Regions from separate parts of the Homo sapiens genome. Here all the other regions are linked to region 3. Evidence: fine-mapped expression QTL. A gene starts in region 3. Each other region holds a variant in brackets. All regions are shown on one strand. Distances are between the middles of the regions.

Evidence for each region. PIP is the estimated chance that this variant, and not a neighbour inherited with it, causes the effect. A credible set is the group of variants that fine-mapping cannot tell apart.
Region 1: its variant is the best candidate, but not a certain one, in a credible set for the expression of AAGAB in whole blood (INTERVAL, PIP 0.77).
Region 2: its variant is the best candidate, but not a certain one, in a credible set for the expression of AAGAB in nasal epithelium (TOPMed, PIP 0.64).

What each region holds. Positions count from the first base shown.
Region 1 is chr15:67,687,497-67,689,996 of GRCh38, reverse strand. The region is part of intron 13 of MAP2K5 (mitogen-activated protein kinase kinase 5); the gene reads right to left. Among named protein-coding and RNA genes, the nearest start is that of SKOR1, 140 kb to the left of the region's middle. RefSeq lists an enhancer at 401-570. The variant T/C (reference allele first, on the strand shown) is at 1,364.
Region 2 is chr15:67,100,946-67,103,445 of GRCh38, reverse strand. All of the region lies in intron 1 of SMAD3 (SMAD family member 3), which reads right to left. Among named protein-coding and RNA genes, the nearest start is that of SMAD3, 37 kb to the right of the region's middle. RefSeq lists an enhancer at 2,331-2,480. The variant G/A (reference allele first, on the strand shown) is at 1,400.
Region 3 is chr15:67,253,464-67,255,963 of GRCh38, reverse strand. It overlaps AAGAB (alpha and gamma adaptin binding protein), which reads left to right and starts at 1,303. Exons shown (of 10, transcript NM_024666.5): 1 at 1,303-1,405. The coding sequence starts at 1,333. IQCH (IQ motif containing H) reads right to left here and starts at 1,178. Exons shown (of 21, transcript NM_001031715.3): 1 at 1,017-1,178. The coding sequence starts at 1,067. RefSeq lists an enhancer at 1,243-1,562.

The DNA of each region.
Region 1 (2,500 bases), 430 kb before region 3:
TAACAAAGTTTACAAATTTGCGCTGGGCTGCACTACTCAAAGCCGTCCTGTGGCTCATGTGGCCCGTGGAGCATGGGTTGGACAAGTTTGCCCTAAACCATTCTTAAGCTACCATATCAGATGGAGACAGTTAATGAACAAATATTTTGAACTCCTGGAAGAAGGTGCTGCCTGGAAATTAAGAGGTATGCTAAAAGCAGCAAATCTTTAGTTTCAATCAGATACATCTGACTTAAGTGGATCAATGGAAAGACAAAATAATAAAACAACAAAACTGCTAAACTATATTCCAAAAGACAAGGTGTAAATAAGAACCTGACTGCATTTTTCCAGCTTTCCAACATCTTTTTAACATATATGTAAGCCTACTGTATGACTTTTCCATATTCTCCCCTCAATCTGGTTTTCAGAAGTACTTTATGTGTGAAAGTAGTAGACATCCAGTCATCCTCAAATCAATCTTTGCATTCCAACAAGACTGTTTTAATCACTGTCTCAAAAGAAAAAAAAACCTCATCATTAAGGCTTTGTTCATTCTGTTTTCATTATCTCCTTCCCACCCCCAGGTTTAGAAACCTTTCCTCCATATTTTCCAACTATCTGAATCCTGCCCATCCTTAATCTCAGGCCATCAAAGTCACTATCTTCTTTGAATTTCTGTAGCATCTGTCTGTACCATTTGTTTGGGACAAAGCATATGATTTATGTATGTAACATATGGGACAAAGCATATGATTTATGTATGTAATGTATGTATGCATGTATGTATTTCAGAGACAGGGTCTTGCTATGTTGCCCAGGCTGACCTCAAACTTTTGGGCTCAAGTGATCCTTCTGCCTCAGCCTCCCGAGTCAAAGGGACTACAGATGTTTGCCACTGCACTCAGCTTTAACGACATTTTATACTAAGAGTTACTTAATGTTTTTGCTGTTATCAGTATCATCACCAAAAGAAATAAGTTCATAGGGTAGGAGTATACTTTATACATCTTTAAATGTATCCCTTCCGAGCACAGTATCTTGCTCACTGGTTGATAGCTTTTTAAATGATACATTAAATTTGCTAATATAAATGTCCCCTTTACCAGCAACCTTGAGACATAATTTGAACCTAACAACCCCCTTTAACAAAGTCAATGAATCTGGGCTAGGAGACATATGACCTGGGTTTTAGTCTTTTTGATCCTGTCACAAATTTGGCACATGACTTTGGCCTTGGCATGTGATGTTTTAGTTTCCAACTCTGTAGGGAGATAACAGTTACCTTGTCAATATTAGAGAACTGTGAGGATTAGATGAGATAATGAATGTAAAATTGCTTTTTAAACTGTCCAACATTCTTTAAGTGTATTATCATTATCAA[T/C]TGGTAATCAACCAAGCTAGAAAAAGTTGTATATTTCATTATATTTAGAAAATAATTTCTATTGCTACTGTGGCAATTAAAGCTGTATTTGGGTAAAATACTAGCTCAAAGAAAATAATTTCCAAAGCTCAGTAAGTAGGACTGTAAAACCAATGTGATGTTTACAAGGAAACATTTTTGCCAGACTATATGCACCCCTTCCTCAACAATGCTACTAAGCTGGTTTCCCTAGTTTTACACTTGCTCTATTATAGTTTGTGTTCAACACAGCAGCTAAAATGATCCCTTTAAAACCTAAGTCAGACCACGTCACTTCTTTGCCTAAAACCTCCAAAGCCTTTCCAACTCAGTGCAAAAATGGAAAGTCCTCCCAGAGGTCCCCAAGGCCCTTGTGAGCTGCCCCATACTCTCACCTTGCCACTCTTTTCCATGCCCACTCTGCTTCAGCTCACTGGCCTACCTGCCAGGTATGCTCTTGCGCTGTGGCTCTGTGTCCCTGGAATACTACTATGCTTCCACAAATTGTCCCTGGCTTGCTCCTTTGCTTTAGATTTTTGCCTGAATTTTTCTCCTTTGCTTTAGATTCTTACCTTTTTAGGGGAAGCCTTTCCTAACCACGTAGTATGCAGTAGCAATACCCCCCAGCTCAGATACTTCCTTTCCCTTTTCTTCTGCTTCAGTGTTCTTCTTAACATTTACCTCCATCAACACGCTCCATTTCTACACATAGATCTGTTAATTCTCAGTACTCCCCTCTTCAAGGGAAGCTCCATGAATGCATACTTGGTCTGTTTTGTTCACTACCACATCTAGAATGGTGTCTGGTACATACAGGAAACAATATTTGTTGAGCAAATGGTGAATAAATGGTGTCTCTACTAAACAGGTGAACTAACATGCCGATCCAGAAGAGCATGAATTTGGCCTGAGAAGGAGCTCCATCTTTTCCCATTTAATGGACTACAGTTCAGAATGAATACATTTCAAAATGACACTTCATTCTGAGAAGAATCCATAGTCATTTAAAAGTACTCACTCACAAATATTTACTGACACCTTACCATGTGCCAGATATGGTACTAGGTGCTGTGGAGAGAAACATGAGTAAGACCCTGTCTCTGGCCTCCAGGAGCATGT
Region 2 (2,500 bases), 150 kb after region 3:
TGTTTGCATCGTGTTCTGCTGTTTTCCAAACTCTTTCTCATCCCTCACTCTCTCCTGATCATCATGCAGTCTTCAATACAGTCAAGGTGGGTCCTGCTATCCCCTTGTCGAGTGATGTGAAGTGAGTCCCAAGGAGGCCATGTGCCTTGTGTGAAACCACACGGAACAGGTTCAAGTGTGTAGCTTTTGCACGACCTTGACTACACTACCTTGACTATAACTCTTCCACTGGGGTGATGGGAGGCAGGGGCAAGGAGTTAAGAAAAACAACAAAAAGAACAGTACAGCTCCATACAAAGGAAGTTGACAATCAAATTTGGGCAGATGAATGACACACAGACAAGCTGCCTTCACAGAAAAGAGCCAAATTAATGCATTCAAAAATGTGTACTGAGCACGTACTACATACCAGAGCTGGGAAGTGAGGCAACAGACCATTCATAGACAGTTAAGACTAAGGAGATGGGACCTGTTTTGGGTTTGAAAGAAGAAAGGTACAGAGGAGTCTAGGAGAGCATCCCAGGAAACGTAATGGGGAGCTAAAACATGGCAGCAGTTGTGGACAAAGCACATTGAAGAGGAGCTATGATGAGCCTCACCTGGGAGGAGCAGAGGGGCTGCACAGAGGTAAATCCAGAAAGCGGTCACTTCCAAAGAACTTTAAATACCAAGCTAAGGGACCACGTATCATGCCTACAGAAACATGGTATATCCAGATCTTCCCAGTCCATTCAACGTCACTCCCTGCAACTGACCAGCCAGGACCACCAAGAGGTTCAGAATTCTACCTGTTTAACAGAATTCCCCATCATACATTGGATGGTCTTGCTCCCATCTCACCCAGGACAAGTCTATACACACAGGTCATCCCAGTATGGCCCTGAATTAGCACCTTGGACATACAATTCCCACAGATGAGGACAGATATGAACACTCACAAATCCACTCCACTGCTCAAAAGAATGTGGTGGAAGGCACACTTTCTAAAGGGCTGCATTTCACACATTTTAAGTGGTTTTCACACATTTCTGAGCAAGTGCATGACTGCTGTATGTGTATGAACATAACAAGTTTCAAAAGGGAAAAAACAGTGGTTAAATCTGACTCATCCTACTCTCCTGGCTTTTTTCTTTCTCTCAACACAAACTCATGCACGCGAGCATGCACACACACACCGCACACACACACACACACACACTTTCACAGCATTTCCCCCAAGACTGATCTGAATAACATGGTGGGCCTCGAGGCAGGAAGGATTCACTGGGTCAATTATCCTCATTCTGAACAAGCTCGCCTTCCAGGTGACCCATGAAAACACAATTTAACCATGAACTTCCGGAAGGCAGGACCTGGTTCTACTCACACAGCCTTAAACAGATCAGGTGCCTCATAATCC[G/A]ATTTGATGGAAGAAATAAATATCAGCGCATTCCAAGCCCTGCTTCCCACAGCTAAGGCTCTCCTAAAGACAAAGGCAAATTCAGCTGTGTCAAGTACAACTCCCAACACAAACTAGTTTGCATTCATTCTTGTTTCTTTCAGTGGCACCCATCCTTGGGTTTCATTTCAGTAAGAGTCTCAACAGCTAACAAAGCACTTTAACGTCCATCATCTCATGCAGATGCTTACACCAACTCCATAAGATAGGAGAGGCCAGAAATATCATTCACATTCAAAGATGAGGACTCTGAATGTGAACAACCTTTAGGTCACTTTCCTAAGGTCATGTAGCTAATCAATCTCGATCTTGTCATTCCTTGCCTACGGATCTCACCTCAGTTACTGAGAGTATAACTGAACTTCCAAGATCCTCAAACCTTATTCAGCTTCTCCTAGGGATTACACAGATATTTAATTCAATTACAGCTCAGCCTGTTCCAGTGGCATCATCATCACTGTCATCATCATTGCTATACTGGCACCGACCAGGACAGGATACAAGAGCTCGACCTCAGAGAGCAGGCAGGCCTACCCAGTACATGCCAGAGGGTGGGAGAGTCAGGGGGCTTGCTAAATTTGAAACCTTTTTCTGACATCCAAGTATTTAAACAGCTCATTGACTCCCATACGTAAATATTACTATAAGCTACAGTTTCATTTACCCTGTGCTGGGGCCAACAGGGTTTGAAAGTAGAGTAAGCATAAATTAGGTACTGGAAAGTTTCTTATTTCCTGTAGTGTCAGGTGTTCATAGTCAAAAAGAGAAGAAAAGAAGAAGCAGTGTCACATGGCAAGTCTCCCAACAAACACCAAACGTATGTATTTGCACACAATTAGTCCCTTTCGCTAACTGCCCAAAGCGAGTAGCACAACAGGAATTGTTCTAGACACATCCACAAGGACACAACCCAGGACTTGGGATATTTCTATTTCTACTACAAAGCCCCAGAGCCTCCTGAGCCTCACCTCAGGGTGAGACAGACAGTTTCCTGAGCACCCATGGAAAGCACAAAATGCCAGGTGGAATAGAGCTGATCCTCAGTGACCCAGAACATACCCA
Region 3 (2,500 bases):
GGACCGTTCCCTCAGACTTCGCAGTTTGGCTAAACTCATTGCTGCGTGATGGTGAAAGTGAGGGTGAGAAAAGATCAGGTAAGATTAGGTATGATTCTTAATGGGGAAGTCTATGAAATTGGTGAGTTCAGGGGCTTGTATTTGGGAAAAGGTACATTTAGGGAAGTCTCTCCTAGATGGGAGGTAAGAGATCAAAATTCTGCCAGAAAAATTAGATCCCTTTGACGAGTAAGACCCACTTCAGACCAACTGAGTGACAGTCCTGACAGAGTGACCTTAGACAAATGACTTCAAGACTTAGTCAAATGCAGCTATTATATATGTGATAGTTAAAACCGATGATATATGTGGAAATATCTTAAAGTTACCTCACATAAATGTGAAAACAAAATGCCATGATCATTTCAGAAACATCTGAGTGCAACTATTACAAATTGAGCTGTATTGGACAAGACTTTCTTGACATTTCCCCTCTCAAATTAAAAAGGTCTTTCACTAAGTTTTTAAATGTCACATTTTTTCATTCCAAGTTATCTTGATTTTTCTGTGTGTTCTCCAATGAGGAACATTTAGATCTAAAAAACTGGGGTGTTTAAGAAAAGCAATTCACATATTTCAATTTGTCTCCAAATTTCTTATCACCTCCTAGAGTGTCCGATTTGTCTCTCCTCCACTCCCGACGTCATGGGTTCAAATTTTTCAGAATATAACATTTAAAAATGATGCCTCAGCGTGAGGTTAATTTTTCTGAAGTAAAGGTTCCGGGTGAACGGTTTTAGAGTTTTCCCAGAGGCAGAAAGTCCTGCTTCTGGGGCGTAACCTACAGGGTAAGTCACCGGGAGTGTGCTGGGCCGTGGGGGAAGGTCTGGGTGGGCATTTTTGGGAGCCTCTCGCGAGTTGGAGGGAGTCTAGGGGCGGCGCACCAAATGGGTGAGCGTCGGTGAATCGGCGCGCGGGACCTCGCTCGGAAGTGGCGCGGCTGGGCAGGGCAGGGCCGGGGGAAGCCCGTTTCCCACCTGGATTAAGATGGATCCGACAGGGTCGTGGTTTTCAGTGTTCTGTGCCATGGCTAGGTCAGGGAACGGCTACCTCCGCGGAGGCGCGGTTTCCAAGCACGGAAACCTTCAGCCGGAGCCGCTCGTCCCCATGGCAACACCGCGCGCGACCTGGCCTGTTCCACGCTGGGAGCGGAAGGGGGTCTAGGGGCGGGGTCAGGCCAGCCTGGTCATTCCGAGAACGCCCTCTCCGGCCTGTCTCCCCCTCGCGCCGGCGGCCGTGGTGCAGCCCAAGGCGGAAGCGGCTGCCTGACGGAACCGGCTCGCGAGCGCAGCTATGGCTGCTGGCGTACCCTGTGCGTTAGTCACCAGCTGCTCCTCCGTCTTCTCAGGAGACCAGCTGGTCCAACGTGAGTAGATAGGCGCCTGGGCCGACCTCCAAGGCCCCTGAGCCTCAGCGGGCGACGGACCCAGCACCACGGCCTCTCTGGGCCTTGTCCCCGCAGCGGGCCCTGCGTTCTTCCTCCAGTCAGTGGAGGCGCCCAGTCTCCCCAGGTGGCTGCCCCTATCTCTTAATCTCGTGCTTTTCTGCCCACTCGGCCTTCTTCGGCGTTCCTTTCGGCTTCCTGTGTAAAGTGAGACTGATTTCCCGCTCTGCTCAGCCCAGGCCACAGGTTTTTGCGAGGATCCGTTGAGATGAACCTGAAGGCTCTCCGGAAATTGCGCTAGGTTACAGGAGTGTAAGGTGCTGGAATTGTTGATATCGTGATGTTGTTATCCTTGCTGCTCCGGGAGAGAGTGTTTACTCTGAATTCTGAAGTTTATTCTGCGTATTTACTCTGAAGTTTATTCTGCTTCTTAATGTGTACATTATAAGACTTGTTAGCTTTGTCCGCTCCACTCTAGTTATTCACGCCTTTCATCTGAGGCATGGGCTCTCCGCCAACATGAGTTTTTGGGTATGATTGGGCTAGTGCTTTTGCTTGTAGACCCTCATAATGGCTGTCAGACTTACTAACTCTTAAAAGAGAGAACATGGGACTGGATAATAAGCCAACTCTACTAAAGGGCTCTGTGAAGTTGAATTATAGGTAACTCAAGACTTCTGTTTTAAGTGTATGGCTTAGAATCAGAGCAGTGACTTAGCTGTATGATCTCGAGCAAGTCACCTAACCTACCTACATTCCTTCCTTCTTTTCTTTTTTTTTTTTTAAAGAGACGGGAACTTGCTCTGTCGCCCGGGCTGGAGTGCAGTGATGCGATCATAGCTCACTTCAGCCTCGAACTCCTGGGCTCAAGCGATCCTCCTGCCTCAGTCTCCCGAGCAACTGGGACTGCAGGCTCACACCACGAACCCTGGCTAATTTTTTTATTTTTTGTAGAGCCAGAGTCTTGCTATGTTGCTCAGGCTGGTCTCCAACTCGTGGTTTCAAGTGATCCTCCTGTCTTGGCCGCCCTAAGTGCTGAGATTACAGGCGTGAGCCACTGTGCCTGGCTACCCTTCA